2 separate regions of the Homo sapiens genome follow, and region 1 is linked to region 2. A link means that fine-mapping ties the variant in region 2 to the expression of a gene that starts in the linked region. Tissue or cell type: nucleus accumbens. Region 2 holds a variant in brackets; the other region holds the start of a gene. All regions are shown on one strand. Distances are between the middles of the regions.

Region 1 (8,349 bases), 24 kb after region 2:
ACATAGCCCTGCACATACTAATACTTGATAAATATGTATAGGATCATTAGATAAGTGAATGGACATAGGTAAAATGTACATGAAAATGAAGGATTTTTCTTAGTTTGGTGGTTAAATCATTATTCTGTGTCATTTCATCAGAGTTTAGCAGTAGACTAGCCACCTTGAATTTCACATTCTTTCTCTACTCCATGATGCAATGTATTGTCAAAGAGAGATGAAGAGCTTGATTAAATTATTATGTGCTGATTTGTGCATAATTGAGTCAAATAGAAAATAACTGATATATTAATATTTATATGAACATCTGGGAACTTGTATATAATTCTGTCTAAACTTGAAACCATTCCCCTGAAATTTACTTGTTAAAAAAGCCCTTTCTAATGTTTTATTTGTTAGTAACTGCCTTTATTGTCAAGCCTTTAAATGCTATTGCTATGTTAGCACATTGATACACATAGACATGAACAGTTTTCCGGAGGGCAGTTTCACAAGTAGAATTAATTTTAGTCAATTTCACTTTCAAAGCTTCAAACATTATCATGAATCAAGAGAAATGCAATGCCTGCAAGAAACCACCACCTACGACACAGTATCGCTGTGAATTCTGAGCATATGCACTCTAAATACCAGGTTTTATGTCATTGCATTTCCTGTCTGGCTTTGAATGAATTCTGCCTTACAGGACTATTAGCAAACAACAAAAATGATAGCACTTCACAAGCCAAGGAATAACTAACCTACTTAAATATGTCTTCCTTTTGGATAGATTAAAAATGCCAGCAGTTAAGCAGCTGATGTATCAGCACGTATGGCAACGGAGGGATTTTTGCAGGCATATGCACTTAATCAAATATTACTTTTCCCATCACTGCCTAGAATCTATGTAATTTAATTAACTTATGCTTCAGTGGCATTTTGGAAATGAAGTGGATCTGAAGTAAGCATTGGATAGGATCTACTTAGCATTCCATCACGGAAAAGTGATGCATAAATTTAAATCTTTCGATAATATTATGCTTTGATTTAAATTGGTTTGAAAGATTTTGGACTGTTTAGTAAGTTTGCAATCCTTAAATAATTAGTCACAGCCACGTTAGAAAAAAATGGGTTTTCATTGAGTTTTGATACTGGATTAAATTTACAAACTTATATGCCTGTACACACACACACGCGCACACACACACTCAGGCACATACGTATCTGGGTATGTATGTTCATGCATATGTTCACATTTTTATTGAGGTAGAATATGAAGAAAAGAGCAAATATTATAAGTATACAGTTTGATGACTTCAAAAATTGCACATAAACACCCTAATCAAGAAACAGAAATTCATCCATCCTCACAATTCCCTTCATATTTCCTTCCAATCACTAATCCTTACCTCTTCTCATCAAAGGGATCTGCTCTCCTGGCCTGTAATAGCATAGGTTTTACTTTCTTTTTTTTTTTTTTTTTTTTACTATATTTATATATAGTCCATATTTATAATCATGATTTTCTTCACAGAAAAGCATCAAAGTATAGAGATGTTTGTCTCACAACTCTCAGCAAGCTACTTAGCCTGAGATGGGATCACTTAAAATTTACTTCCATTTCTCACAGAATTGTGTCTCAGTGTAGTAACTAATTTCAAGATAAACTTTGGGGTCACGTGCAGCACTTAAATAGTTTGGAAATAAACACTTCCACTGTTCAATGATAAAAATCATTGCTCTCTGGGATGCAGAAAGTTTTCTACTCTTTGAAATATATTGAGGCTTCTTTGTAGGAGAAGGAGTCAATCTGATAATCATACCATCTTATAGATAAGTATTATCCCATCTCAAAAGGCACATGGTACATCATGACATGCCTTTGGTGAATCATGACAATGCAATTTTAGACACAACTAAGAACAGCAATAGTCTCCTGGTTATAAATTCCCTTCAGGCAGTGCCAGTGACAGTTGTATAGGGCTCCATTGGTGGTCACTCTCACTAAATAACATGGTTGTCATTTGTCCAAATAGTCTCCTGAGAAAACCAGTTTCTCACCTTAGGGAATTCTCCTCCTGAAAACATTCTGTTAACTGCATGGAGATGATAAAACTACATGCAAATACAGCAAAGCAGCACTCTCCATAGGACTTTCTAAGACAACAAAAATTCCCTGGCTGGGCACGGCCCCTGTAATCCCAGCACTTTGGGAGGCTGAGGCAGGCAGATCACCTGAGGTCAGGAGTTCGAGACCAGCCTGGCCAGCATGGTGAAACCCCATCTCTACTAAAAATACAAAAATTAGCCAGGCATGATGGTGGGCGGCTATAATCCCAGCTACTTGAGAGGCTGAGACAGGAGAATCTCTTGAATCCAGAAGGCAGAATTTACAGTGAGCCGAGATAACGCCTCTGCACTCCAGCCTAGGCCATAGAGCGAGACTCCATCTGAAAAAAAAAAAATCCCTGTCCCCTGTGTTATCTAATCCAGTAGCCACTAGCCACATGACCACGAATCACATGAAATGTGGCTGATGTGACTGATGAAATGAATTTTACATTTTAATTTTAATTAACTTTAAATCTAAAAAGCCACGTGTCTATTTTTTTGGACAGTAGAGCACGATTCATATTAGGAATTAAACAGTGATCTTTATATTCTCATTCTTATGATTTCCTTTCATAGAAATACAATCAAGTACCTCCAAATTGTCAAAAAGACAAATTTAAAGTTGATATGAGTGTTAGAAACTAAAACTCTACTATTTTTCAATTTACCCCACTTTCCAGTTCCCTATGTCAACAAATCAAACACAGTATTTTTTAAGGAGTTGGAAATGTCTAGAATTTTTTCCTCTTTATTTAAAAAATTACATCACACTTTAGGAAGCAAGTTCGATGTGGTTTCTATTTTACAAAATTTAAATCAGAATCACTATTATTATACCACATATAATTATAATGACAATGATGCCAACAGATAAAAGCTTGATCTGAGGATAGGAGGATAGAAATACCATTTCTCAGTGTATTTTTCGGTGAAGGTCAGGCTAGAATAAGCTTTGTTGTCACTGACATCCGTCAATTTTGCCTGACAGCCCATATAATTAAGTCAGGGGCTATCATTTTAACCAGCATTAAATGTTTTGATGACACTGATAAATTCCAGTGTAAAAAAGACATTGAAGCTTTAGGGAGACAATACAGAATGTGATGGAGCATGTGACAGTTGCATGTATTAATAAGGAAATCTGGATCATTAAGACCTCCAAGGGAAGTTTTCAGCCTGAACGATCCATAGCTGCTGGCATTAGTCAATCTAACTACATAATTTTTAAATATCTCTTTTCTTTTCTTTGAGACAGAGTTTTGCTCTTGTCGCCCAGGCTGGAGTGCAATGGCACCATCTCAGCTCACTGCAACCTCTGCCTCCCAGATTCAAGTGATTGTCCTGCCTCAGCCTCCAGAGTAGCTGGCATTACAGGTGTCCACCACCAAGTCTGGCTAATTTAGTATATACAGGGTTTCACCATGTTAGCCAGGCTGGTCTCAAGCTCCTGACCTCAGGTGATCCACCCACCTTGGCCTCCCAAAGTGCTGGGATTACAGGCATGTGCCAACGTGCCTGGCCTAAATATCTTTTCTCAAATCTTACCCACCTGCTGTAAGGTAGGGCTGTAATGATCCAAAGTGGAATGACCATCTAGAAATTTCTTGATTATTCCATTAAACAATCAACTTGGGGTTTATTGCTCAATTACTATTTGCCTAATTTTGCCATATGGACTGTGATTGAAACAGAAGAAATATAAGAAAGTGATTTTTTTTTCTACTCTTGATGAACTTGTGATGTTATCTTAAAGACAAAATACATTTAAAAATTAGAGAAAAAGACTTTTCTATGAGAGTAAAGGCTATGCCTTTAGTTTGCACTCACCTTATTTTCTCTGGCTATTATTTTGGAGTCTGGCAACTAGCACCCAAAAATATTTGTTTAACAGATGTTGAATTAATAACATTTAATTAGTAAGACTGCCTGAAATGTCAACTTCCTATAATACCATCAAGGTTACATCACTCATATATTCAGAAAATATATTGCATAAAAACAAATTACAAAAATTGAAGATAATTCATTTGCACAGGTTTAGTGTTTGAAACTTTCCACAGACTTGCCTCCATCAAACTTCCAGAACTCACTTCCATTTCATCCCTCTAACCTTTAAATATGGATTGTTTCACTTGCCAACATCCCCTTGGCTGCATCTTTCCTTCAAATCTCTATTCAAGGCCAGGGGCAGTGGCTCAAACCTGTAATCCTGGCACTTTGGGAGGCCGAGGCAGGTGGATCACTTGAGGTCAGGAGTTCGAGACCAACTTGGTCAACCGGTGAAATCCATCTCTACTAAAAATACAAAAAAAATTAGCCGGGCATGGTGGCACGCACCTATAGTCCCAGCTACTCGGGAGGCTGAGGCAGGAGAATTGTTTGAACCTGGGAGGCAGAGGTTGCAGTGAGCCGAGATCGTGCCACTGCACTCCAGCCTTAGTGACAGAAGGAGACTCTGTCTCAAAAAAAAAATAAAAAAATAAAATAAAAATTCTATTCAAGGCACATCTGACCTATAATGGTCCAAACTCACATGTTGTCTGTCCTTCTAAAGAGAGTAGCCTTTTATCATTTTTATTATATATGTGCTGCATAAGCACATTTCAGTCAACAAGGGAGGTGAAAGATTCCTATTGCCTGGTGATATAGCCATTGTGATGTCAGAGCACAATGCATTACTCACATGTTTACGGTGATGCTGATGTAGACAAACCTACTGAGCTGCCAGTCATATAGTATGCATAACCAAATATAGCCTACATGATTATGTATAGTACATAATACTTGGTAATGATAATACATGACTAAGCTACTGGTTTAGGTATTTACTCTACTTTTTATAGTTATTTTAGAGTATACTCCTTCTGCATATTAAAAAACAAAAATTAACTGTAAAACAGCTTCAGACAGATCCTTCAGAAGTTATTCCAAGAGTCGTTGTTATCATACATGATGACAGCTCCATGAGTGTTACTGACCTTGAAGTCCCTCCAGTAGTACAAGATGTGGAGGTGGAAGACAGTGATACTGATGATCTTGACCTTGTGCAGGCCCAGATGTTTTGATTTTTGTTTTCTGAAACAGGGTATCACTGTGTTGCCCAGGCTGAAGGGCAGTGGAGTGATCATGGCTCACTGTAGCCGTAAACTCTTGGGCTCAAGCGGTCCTCCCACCTCAGCCTCCTGAGTAGTTATGACCACCTGTGCATGCCATTATACCTGGCCAGTTATTTTAAATGTTTTGTAGAGACAAGGTTTTGCTATGTTGTCCTGGTATGTCTCAAATTCCTGGCCTCAAGAGGAGGAGGCCTTTTCCCACCTTGACCTCCCAGAGTGCTGGGATTACAGATATGAACCACAGTGCCTGGCAAGACTAGGTTAATGTGTGTTTGTGTCTTCGCTTTTAATAAAAAAGGAAAAAAAAAAAGAAACTAGATAAAAGCTTTAGAATAATATAACAAAAAAATCAGGTATAACTGTACAGTATGTTTTAAGCTACATTTATTATAGAAAAGTCAAAATGTTAAAAAACAAAATTATAAAGTAAAAAATTACAGTGTTAAGGTAAATTTATTATTGAAGAAAAAGAAATATTTTTAATAATTGTTGGGTATTCTAAGTGTATAGTATTTATAAACTCTACACTAGTTTACAGTAATTTTCTCGGCCTTCACATTCACTCACCACTCACTGACTCACCCACAGTAACTTTGTGGCCTGAAAGCTCCATTCATAGTAATTTCCCTATAAGGTGTACTATTTTTTATCTTTTACACTGTAGTTTTACAGTATCTTCTCTATGTTTAGAGACACAAATACTTACCATTGTGTTACAATTGCCTACACTATTCAGTACAGTAACATGTCATACAGGTTTGTAGCCTGGGAGCAAAAGGCTCCACCATGTAGCCTTAGGTGGGGAGTGGGCTGTATCATCTAGGTTGGTGTAAGTATGCTCATGATGTTCACACAATTATGAAATCACAGAAACATGCATTTCTCAGAATGTATCTGATATGGTTTGGCTGTGTCCTCACCCAAATTTCACCTTGAATTGTAATAATCCCCACATGTCAAGGCAAGGCCAAGTGGAGATAATGGAATCATGGGGACGGTTTCCTCCATACTGTTCTCGTGATAGTGAATAAGTCTCAATCTGATGGTTTTATAGATGGGAGTTCCCCTGCACAAGCTTCTCCTGCCTGCTGCCATGTAAGACGTGCCTTTGCTTCTCCTTTGCCTTCTGCCATGATTGTGAGGTCTCCCCAGCCATGTGGAACTGGGAGTCCATTAAACCTCTTTCCTTTATAAATTAACTAGTCTCAGGTATGTCTTTATTAGCAGGGTGAGAACAGACTAATACAGTATCCCCATCATTAAGCATGGCATAACTATAGTTACTCATTCTTTCTTCCTACTGATTTAGAATGTTCTTAAGGATGAGAACTATTTGCTCATTTTATTGATTATTCACCCACTCAACAGTTCCAGTTTAAGTGCAATACAATCGTGGGTAAAAGTGTACCTGACTTCCACTCTAATGGAAGTTATAAATTACAAGTAGAGACATTTATCAAGTATTCATTCAAATTGGTGCATAAACTAAAATTTAATTATATAACTAGTAGTATTTAAGGGGGGAAAAAAACCCTGGCCAAAGCTGGAAAGAAGAATGGTGTTAAAGAATCTTTTACTCTACAAGCAATGCTGCAAAAGAGGTAAGTCACTTAAGGATTTTGAGCTTAATCCTAACTTCAACAAGAAGTGGTTAGGTAGTATAAAAAGCAGAGAATGGACAAGTTAATTTTTTAGGAGATTCTTCAGGCTACCTAATGGAAAAAAATAAGATAGGGGCGAGTGGGAAGCTAAACAGCTTTTAGGAGGAGAATTAACTGGTCATTTAAGCAATTCAAAAGAGAGATGTTGTTAGATTAAAACAGAATGGTGGTTGTGGACATGTGGACATAAGACACGTTTGAAATGTATTTTTGAAAGAAAACAATGAGACTTGTTGGTGGAAAGGATATGGGGCAGTGTGTCAGGCACAAGCTGCTACGCACCCAACATCAGGAATTTTTTTTTTTTAGGCAGAGTTTTGCCCTTGTTGCCCAGGCTGGAGTGCAATGGTGCGATCTCGGCTCACTGCAACCTCTGCCTCCAGGGTTCAAGCAATTCTCCTGCCTAAGCCTCCCAAGTACCTGGGATTACAGGTGCCCACCCCGACACCCGGCTAATTTTTTTGTATTTTTAGTAGAGATGCGGTTTCCCCATATTGGCCAGGCTGATCTCAAACTCCTGACCTCAGGTGATCCGCCCACCTCTGCGTCCCAAAGTGCTGGGTTTACAGGTGTCAGCCACTGCGCCCAGCCACAGAATGTCTTTTTATACTTAGCCTCCCAACATCAGCTAGGTATTAAAAATCCACTTGTCTTCAACCCCCTTCTTCTCTCCCAATAGAATTTGATTTTTTTTTCCAGCTAATGAGAGTTCAGTAGATCTTAGAAAAGAAAGGAAATGATCCCCCATCTCAGCTCCAAGAGATGAACTGTGATTGTCTAATTGAACAGTGCCATGATAATTGAATTCTTTTGGTTTGTGGTTGATCCACAGTGGTCATGCAGCCTAATTCTGGAACGGGAGATGTAAGCAAATGAAAGTTCAGTAAGGTTTCTGTGAAGGGTTTTGCTTTCCGGATACAAAGTGACAAACTCAACTGGCCCAACTCTTTTCCCCTTTTTGCGCATACATGTTTGTTAGTTTCCCATTGCTGCTATAACAAATTACTACAAGCCTGGTGTCTTAAAATACAAAAATTGGCCAGGCGCGGTGGGTCATGCCTGCAATCCCAGCACTTTGGGAGGCCAAGGTGGGCGGATCACGAGATCAGGAGATCGAGACCATCTTGGCTAACAAGGTGAAACCCCTGTTCCTACTAAAAATACAAAACATTAGCTGGGCATGGTGGTGGGCACCTGTAGTCCCAGCTACTCGGGAGGCTGAGGCAGGAGAATGGCGTGAACCTGGGAGGCAGAGCTTGCAGTAAGCAGAGATCACACCACTGCACTCCAGCATGGGCAACAGAGCAAGACTCTGTCTCAAAAAAAAAAAATGCAAAAAAATATAAAAATTAGTGATCTTACAGTTCTGGAGGTCAGAAGCCTGAAGTAGAACCCACTGAGTGACATTGTCTGGATGTTCTAGGGGAGAACCTGTTCCTTTGCCTTTTCCAACTTCAAGAGGCACTCATGTGCCTTGGCTC
Region 2 (8,349 bases):
ATTTAGTTCCACAACCATGACAGCAGTCCAAGTGAATTAATTCATAATACTTTCAATGTTCATTATTATAAATTCACTTTTCACCTAAACATTGGACAAAAAAGGATTGCATGTTCTCCTATGTTTAATAGACCCCTAAGCACACTGTCAATGATTCCTAAAACATTACTTCTAGGTCCAATATGGAAAAAGCCATGTTCCTGCTGATTTTCACTACAGGAAAAGGCGGCCTGCTGATTCCCGCCCTTCTCCTAGAAGAACAGTATTCAAGTACGAACAATACGTCTTCCCATCCCTCTGAGTGTAACATGGCCTTCCGCCGGTGACCTTTCCAATACACCAGCACAAAGGTACACCTGTGACCCTGCTGCTCGGCTGAGCATCACATCTGCATGGAGGACAGTTGCCAGGATGTAGCAATGTGGCTGTTATCCAGGAACTCTGTGACAACATCGCATCACGTGCTGGCCCCATTCAATTTATGAGCAAAACCAAAGCCCTGAAGACTTTAATGACAGGAAGGAGGACTGTAGCTACTCCTATTACTAGTGATCAGAGCAAAATGAACCTTGCAGAGCCAGAAGCTATAAAGCCAATTGGCTAAACTCCACAGAAAACTGATTCTAAGAATGTTAATTGAGCATAAATTAATGTGAAGGCAGTAATGATCCATGTGAATTTCAGATGATTGACTATATCATTAATCTCCAAAGCATGAATAATGTGAACCCTTCCCTTCTCTTCTAAATGAACACTGAAAATACAGAAGAGCTAACTGGATATTGGCATAGGGAAAATGAAGAAATAGGTGAAAAAGTAACAGATCAACATCTGGGTTACTACAATTCAGATGATCATTATGTTGATAACTTTCTGAAAAAGCCTACAGATGAAGCATTTAGAGTAAAGCTGTTTCTTATATATAATATTTTTATTGTCTTAATTGTAAGATATATTTTATGTATTGAAATGTTCACACATACTATCCTTAAAATCTTATTATTTGTTGCTTTAGGGATTCCCATTTTAAGTGCAGTGGTATTAATTGTTCCTTCTGTAGCTTCTCCCCACTTGTCACTAAAGTACTTAAGGTGACTCGGAAATAGTAAAAAATATGTGTTACCATGAGCGTGCATGCACACAGCGTACGCGCGCGCGCGCGCACACACACACACACATACAATCTACAAAATAAAAAAAAATTACTAGGATCAATCATTAAGTGTTGCCAGGGCAGAATCGGGGAGAAAATTTAGTTAATATAAGATAAATGGGTTGGACTGGCAAAAATCATCAATATCTCATGGATGCATGCTTTGCTATTGAAAACAGGATAAACTTGGTCTTAGAGAAGGTCAGGAGCTATTTTGCTTCTTTCCCACTGACTGATTCTAGCCCAGACACCCAAGGTACAAAGCAACTAGAAATCGGGACACCCAGAACTTCACTACAGGGATGTTCTATTTTGAGACCATTTGCCTCCCACTTCTCCAGCCTGCACTCCACGTCTCTCTTTCACCATATAACAAGCATAACCTACTGAGATGGAAAATGATCACAGGTAAAGTGCTGCATGAGATGATGAAGTCAGGAAGGGTCTAGGAGTCATACAGATTGATGATTGCAGTTTCTCCCTTGCTCAATGGAAAATGTCAAAGAGCTAAGTATCAGAAGAAGGAGAAAATTATAGCTCTGGCAACAAAATGACTTTATAAGAGAATATGCATCTCTTAAGGTTAAAGGGAAAAACCTACAAAGAACCATGGGGTTTGTGGGAAAAATATGAGAGCACAAAGTAAGTGAAACAACATCCAAAAATGGTCACAGAAATCATATGCCCTTGAACAACAGAGGTATCATTTAATCAGCTGGCATTTTTTGCAGGCTAAATGACAGCTGATTTCTCTGAAATAAATGCAAAAATCCTAGCAAAGGAGATCCCCAGATGAAAAACTAACATAAAGTAATTACAAGTATGACCGTTAGGAAATATTTCTGGAGAGAGACAAAAATGGAAAAAGAAAGCATAATTAAAATATACATTTGTGCTAGTGGAAACTACAGTAAGTCCAGTCAATGTTGTGAAAGACAAATTTGAGATACTTTCCCAGAATGCAGAAATGAAGAACCAAGAATAAAATGAGAGCCAATACAGCTATGGGAGATGATAGATAGAAATCTATTCTAAAAATAGCAGATTTACTTGAGAAAAAGCCAGAATAATTAAAATAGAAAAAATACATTAAGAACAGAAATAAAGTCTGTTCAAGAATTTTAAAAGCCAAGCTAAACATATCAAACCAAAGAAAACCCTAACCTTTCAGATGAAATGAACCCATCCTTTTCTCTATGTCTTTATAAGATACCAATCTAGATATTAACAAAGGTTTTAATTAAAATCATAATAGTGAATTCAAATGATGGGAATGATCTACTTTAATGTTGAGAAAGGCCCACACATCATAGCCTGATCTTATCCTCCCTCACTTCATTCCATTTCCTAGAGGAGTGAACTGAGCCTCAGACAAGTTGCAAACCCTAGAAAGAATGCTGACAAGCCATGGACTGATTGATTTGGTAATGGAGATGCTATCAATCTAATCACCCTTACTTATGTCTCACTCTGAAATTAAGACAAGTGAATTTTCATAGTCCCCTATAGGTGGAAAATCAGCATAAGCCATGGATACAGCTGAGATCTAGGAGCCAGAGCCACGTGGCTCCATCTAAAGTAACCCAGAGGTGGGTTCATAATACCAGTTCCTACAGATGGTGTCTTGATCCCAGCAGGAGAGCTCAGATTCCATAAATTCCGTAACAGAAGACTGAATGTCCTGAGGCCTTATGTCAATTGTATATACAATAGTCAACATTGCAATTGAATGAATAATACTGTTCTAAAGATTGAGTAAAAGGTAGCTCCCTGAAGCCAGTTGTTTCTATGCAGCTGAGCACAGAAAGCATGCTTCTAAGAAAGGATATTAAGACAAAATTCCCTCCTGCCATGTTCCCCATCATTCCCTTCGATGTAGGTCTTTTATTCTAACCCACTGGCATCTTAAGAGGTTGTTAAGTTATTAGGCTGGTAGACATTTTGACATCCCTCAAATTAATTTATTTGAATTTTACTTGAAAGTGGGCCAAGATGAAGCTGAGTTATCTCTAAGAATAAACATAAAGATGCCTTTAATTTTTCCAAAAATAAAAAAACAGCAAAAGAGGAAAAAACATTATGTTTATCTAGAAACAATTTTTAAAGTAAAAGCAGTGTGTATAAGAAATTATGTTGTCAGAAGACAATGTCATTAATAATATATCAAAAATAGTATTGGTTTCTTTTCTAAGTAACCCTTGGATTAGGATGGTAACCCTATTTATGTTATTTGTATGTACAATAACATGCCTCAAAATCTCTTATACAATCTGAAATATTAAGCTTACAACATTTAGAGTATGTGTATAGCATATAATAGTAAAATGTGATTGCATGTTTAAAGTGTAGCAATTCAGGAATCTGTTTCTACTAAGTATTATATTTTCTAGCAGAATGAGCAAAAATATTCATTTCTACACTCATTTCTTAGTGTCTCTTATCTCTCATTGCGCCCATGTTGAAGTGAGCAATGACAAAAAATAATTTTCCCCCAACAGATGAAGGTGAGTATGCCGTTGTTTGTTTGCTAGCTTTTAAATAACTGGTAAATTGTAGAAATTTCGCTGTCTTGAAATCAGTTATTTCTGTCTTCCTTGGATGCCGTATCACCATACTGTTAACTTTGATCTCTGAAGGGAGAATTCCAAATGCCATTTTTCTCTTTCATCTCGATCACATCTTTATCTGCTTTCCATTCCCAACACATTTGTAGAATGTCTCCTTTGCATGAGGCACTATCGTGGTCACTGAAGGAAGAAAGTAATGAAAAAATAAGA[A/C]AAAGATAAGAAAATATAAGAGGAGATGTGCTATCAAGGCGAGAGGTGTGTCAAGAGGTGATGCTAAGCCTAAGATAATGAGACAATAGCAGAGAGAATTAAGCAGAGAGAACCTTTTGGGGGAATATAATATTTTACCTAAGGAAAGATTTATGTGATGCTTAAAGGGTCAGAGATAATTAAAAGCAATGGGAAGAAAGGAATTCCCCTTAGAGCAGACAGAAAAGATAGGGAGAGGAGGGTTAAAACTATCAGGAAGTATACAAGGAAATGATTAGCGGATTGATGTTGCTGGGATGTAATGTTTGAGGCAGGGGTAAATCATGATAGAGCCTATACCATGGAATTCTTCACATCAAACTATTCTATTACTTAGCCACTTTCTTTTTCCTTCGAGTGCTTGTTACTATCTGGCATATATTACATATTTATGTATGGTCTGTCATTCTTTTTAGGATGTTATCTTCACAAGCACAGGTTTTTCTCTATCTTGTTCACTACTCCACCCTCAGTACTTGCAACAGAGATTTGCACAGAGTAGGCGCCCAGTCCTTCATAGAGAAATGCAGAAATGAATGAATAAATTGAGTGCTTAAAATCTTATCTTTCAAAACCGTCTTCTGATTTCAATTACTTTTCCTGTTTTAGCACAACCTAAAATACAGTCAAATTCTTCATGATTTCCAATCACATCAATATTTTTATTAAATTGTTTTACCTCTATGACTTGACTAATTTATTGCCTGTAAAGAGAATGTCTTTTGAGTGGGCCTCCAGCTAACATGCTGATTATCTGCAGTTATAAAACTTCAAGACAGAATTAATCATCTATAAAGCATAGTTTTTAAGAACTTGAACTCTAGATTCATATAGCCAATAGCAGCTTCTCTATTTACAGTGTGTCCTTGGGCAAGTTACTTAATGTCTCCATACTCGTGTTTCCTCAAATGTGAAAGAATGTTACCCACTTCACCATTACTGAGAATATCAGATTGTACAAAATCTGTGAAACTCTTAAAACAATACACAATTCATAATACATTTTTTTCTTGTATTAAAAGTTCTGTATATGCCTGTCCATAATCATTATTATTGTACCCAAGCTGAGGACACAGATTAGGACTTTAAAATTTTCCTATCTACTTGTCTAATATGATGTTCTATATATATTTGGGTGATTTACAAATGAATGCTAATTTATTGAGTTAACTCTTATAAGTAGGCCATGCACAGTGGCTCACGCCTGGTATCCCAGGACTTTGGGAGGCCGAGGCGGGAAGATCACGAAGTCATGGGATCAAGACCATCCTGGCCAACATGGTGAAACACTGTCTCTACTAAGATACAAAAAATTAGCCCAGCATGGTGGTGTGCACCTGTAGTCCCAGCTACTGGGGAGGCTGAGGCAGGGGAATTGCTTGAACCTGGGAGGCGGAGATTGCAATGAGCTGAGATTGTGCCACTGCACTCCAGCCTGGCAACAGAGTGAGACTCCAGCTCAACAACAAAAAACTAAATTAATTAATTAAATTAATTAAATAAAAATTTGTAAGCAGGACTTTCTTTTCAGCAATAGATCCATTCAATATACATAAAATGGTTTCATAATTTTTCAAATTCACCACAAATTCAAGCAAAAAAAAATAAGGTAAACCATTAAATGTATGAGGATTGTTGAAATTTTTCACTTGTGCAGGATATATTTTATTCCTATGAATCAGCAAAGCTATTTCCACTTAATTCTAAATAAAGGCACCTTGACATTTTTTTCTTTCAAAATAATGTACCAGTTATAACATTTTCAATTCTCAGTGGTATAACTTGTAAATAACTTTACTTTGCTTTTAGAAATTCTGCTAACATCAGAGCAGAGATGTTATAGGTAGAGTGGGTGTGAGTTTATTCAGTGTTGTCTAAACTGGTTATGAAAACAATTGCACACTCTTATGTGAGAAGGGATTTCATCTATTCTGCCAGTTTTTGTAAATAACACATTTTCAAATACTACACCTACTGCAGAATGAAAAAAATATTTGTAGAGAATATTTTATAGATGTTTTATAATGAAAGGACTGAAGCCAAAGAAAGCTAAATTCATTCATTCATTGTTTCATTTATACATTTACTCATCAAGCGTTTGTTGAATTTCTATAGCTATTGCTGGCAAGAGAAAAAAGTAAAAATGTAAATAGATGAGAAAAAATTCCTTGTGATGCTGTAAGTGGGTAAGATTAGAGGCAAACTCAATGTACTGTGAAGACAAACGGTGGATGGGATGGTTGAGTAAGTAGTTGATCTTTCATCTGGGGAGTAGAGAATGATTAGGACAGATTTACCAATGGAAGTAATTCCTGAATAGCCTCTAGAAGAAAGGGTAGAAATGATTATGGTGAGTAATGAGGCAAGAATATTCTAGGCAGAGGAAGCTGCATGTGCAAAGCATGAAGACATGGAAATGCATAGATTTAGGGAATCACATACTTGGGGGCCAAGGAAGTAGCAGAAATCAAGGTGTAGACAGAGGCACAGACTAAGTGGAAATATCTTAAGTGCAATGATCTGTATGTATATAATTCTAATATTCCAATAAGAGCCTCCTGATTCTTAGAATCATATTCTTTTCATAACACAATTTTTCATTTGTTTCCAGAAATTTTAATCGAGCCTGCGACAGGCTATGGTAATAAAGTAAGGCATACTCTTGAACCTAAAAGTATATGTGTGAATCAAAGGTAGAAGATTCCAAATGAATCACCCGGAGCCTTGACACAAAGTAGAAGAGCTTCCTACGTTCTCCTCAGGGATGTTATATATTTGAAAGACCACAAAACAAAAGAAACAGAGGCTGGAATTTCACTCTCTGAAATTTCCTCAGAATCACGAAGTAAGAGGTGCATTTTATAAGTTTGGTTAACTGTTGTGTCTAAATCATATTCTGGTCACTGTCAAGAAGTTATATGAGGAACATGCTTTATTTGGAATTTACTTTGCTTGAAAGAGGCCTAGAGTTTTCTTAGCTATAATTTTATAATCAATTATTATTTAAAAAATATTTTCTGTAATCTATTTTTTGACTGGCTTTAATTTTTAAACTGGCCTTAGTTTTTCTTATTTCTAATCAAACTTTTATTTTGAAATTTTAATTTCTGAAATATAAACAGTGTAATATTGTTCCTTAGAACTCTTTCATTCATATGAAGTTTTTGAAAAAGTGTGTGTTCCTATAATGATTCTACTTCTCTTAAAGTCCTCAGAGACAGCCTTTATTTTGCATTTTCATGCAGCTCATCTTCCAAGCTTTTTACTACTATTAAATACAAAGTTTGGTATGTAGTGGATAATTATTTTTAAGGTCATATTTAAGTTAATACTCAATAAAATTGACCTTTAATGTGGCATACAGTTCTATGAATTCTCTCCTGTGCCCATGCTGATGTAGCCACCAACTCCGAAAAGAAGGCCGAACAGTTATATTCCATTCCCCCATTCTCTCCTTCCATCTCTTTACAGTCCCACTACTTCTCACTCCTACATCCTGTCAACCACTGATCTGTTTTCCATCACTGAAGTTTTATCTTTTTAGAGATTAACACACACATGGAAACATGGAGGCTGTAACTTTTTGATACTGGCTTCTTTCACTCAGATTAAAGCCTTCGAGTTTGATGTAAGATGTTGTGAGTACCAAAATAATGCACACATTTTAATTGTTTAGTAGTATTCTATAGTCGGGATGTATCATAATTTGCTTATCCATTCAACCATTGAAAGATATTTGGGTTATTTCAAGTTTTTGGCAATTATGAAGAGAACTGCTATAAACATTCATATGTAGGTTTTGTATAAATCTAAGTTATTTTTCTGGGGTAAACACCAAGCAGTGGGATTGCTGGGCCATATGGTAAGTGAATGTTAAATTTAACATGAAACTACCAACCACCTTAAAGAGTGACTATATCATTTTCATTTCCCAATGCAATGTATGAGAATCCCAGTTGCTCTTTGACCTCACCAGCACCAGGAATTGTTAATACTTTTTTTTAGTGGGAGTTATTCTAATGGGTTGTAGCGATATCTCATGATTTTCATTGACTTTTTCCTAGTGATTTTGATTTTAAACATCTTTTCACATGTTTACTGGACTTCCATGTCTTCTTTCGTGAAACATCTGTTCAAGTCTTTTGCCCTTTTTAAATTTGATTCTTACTGCTACATTTTGAGATTTCTTTATATATTCTGAATACAGCTCCCTTTTCAGATATGTGGCTTGAACATATTTTTGCTCTTTCTATGCTCTTTAAAATTACTGTTAAAGTTAACTTCTCAAAGTTAACTTTAAAAGTTACTGTTAAAGTAAACAGTAACTTTAACTTCTCAAAGTTACTGTTAATGTGAACTGTAACTTTAGGAGACTTTTAG

Alleles and levels. Positions count from the first base shown, and alleles are read on the strand shown. Sizes are in standard deviations (SD) of each study's normalised expression.
With allele C in place of A in region 2, the expression in nucleus accumbens of the gene that starts at base 4,703 in region 1 is higher (large effect, 0.82 SD a copy in GTEx).

The links. PIP is the estimated chance that this variant, and not a neighbour inherited with it, causes the effect.
Region 1: it holds the start of GPC5-IT1, and the variant in region 2 is fine-mapped to the expression of GPC5-IT1 in nucleus accumbens (GTEx, PIP 0.98).

The regions. Positions count from the first base shown.
Region 1 is chr13:92,480,957-92,489,305 of GRCh38, reverse strand. It overlaps GPC5-IT1 (GPC5 intronic transcript 1), which reads right to left and starts at 4,703. Exons shown (of 2, transcript NR_046779.1): 1 at 4,625-4,703. The region is part of intron 7 of GPC5 (glypican 5); the gene reads right to left.
Region 2 is chr13:92,505,064-92,513,412 of GRCh38, reverse strand. All of the region lies in intron 7 of GPC5 (glypican 5), which reads right to left. It overlaps GPC5-IT1 (GPC5 intronic transcript 1), which reads right to left. Exons shown (of 2, transcript NR_046779.1): 2 at 3,093-3,900. Among named protein-coding and RNA genes, the nearest start is that of MIR548AS, 19 kb to the right of the region's middle. The variant A/C (reference allele first, on the strand shown) is at 3,931.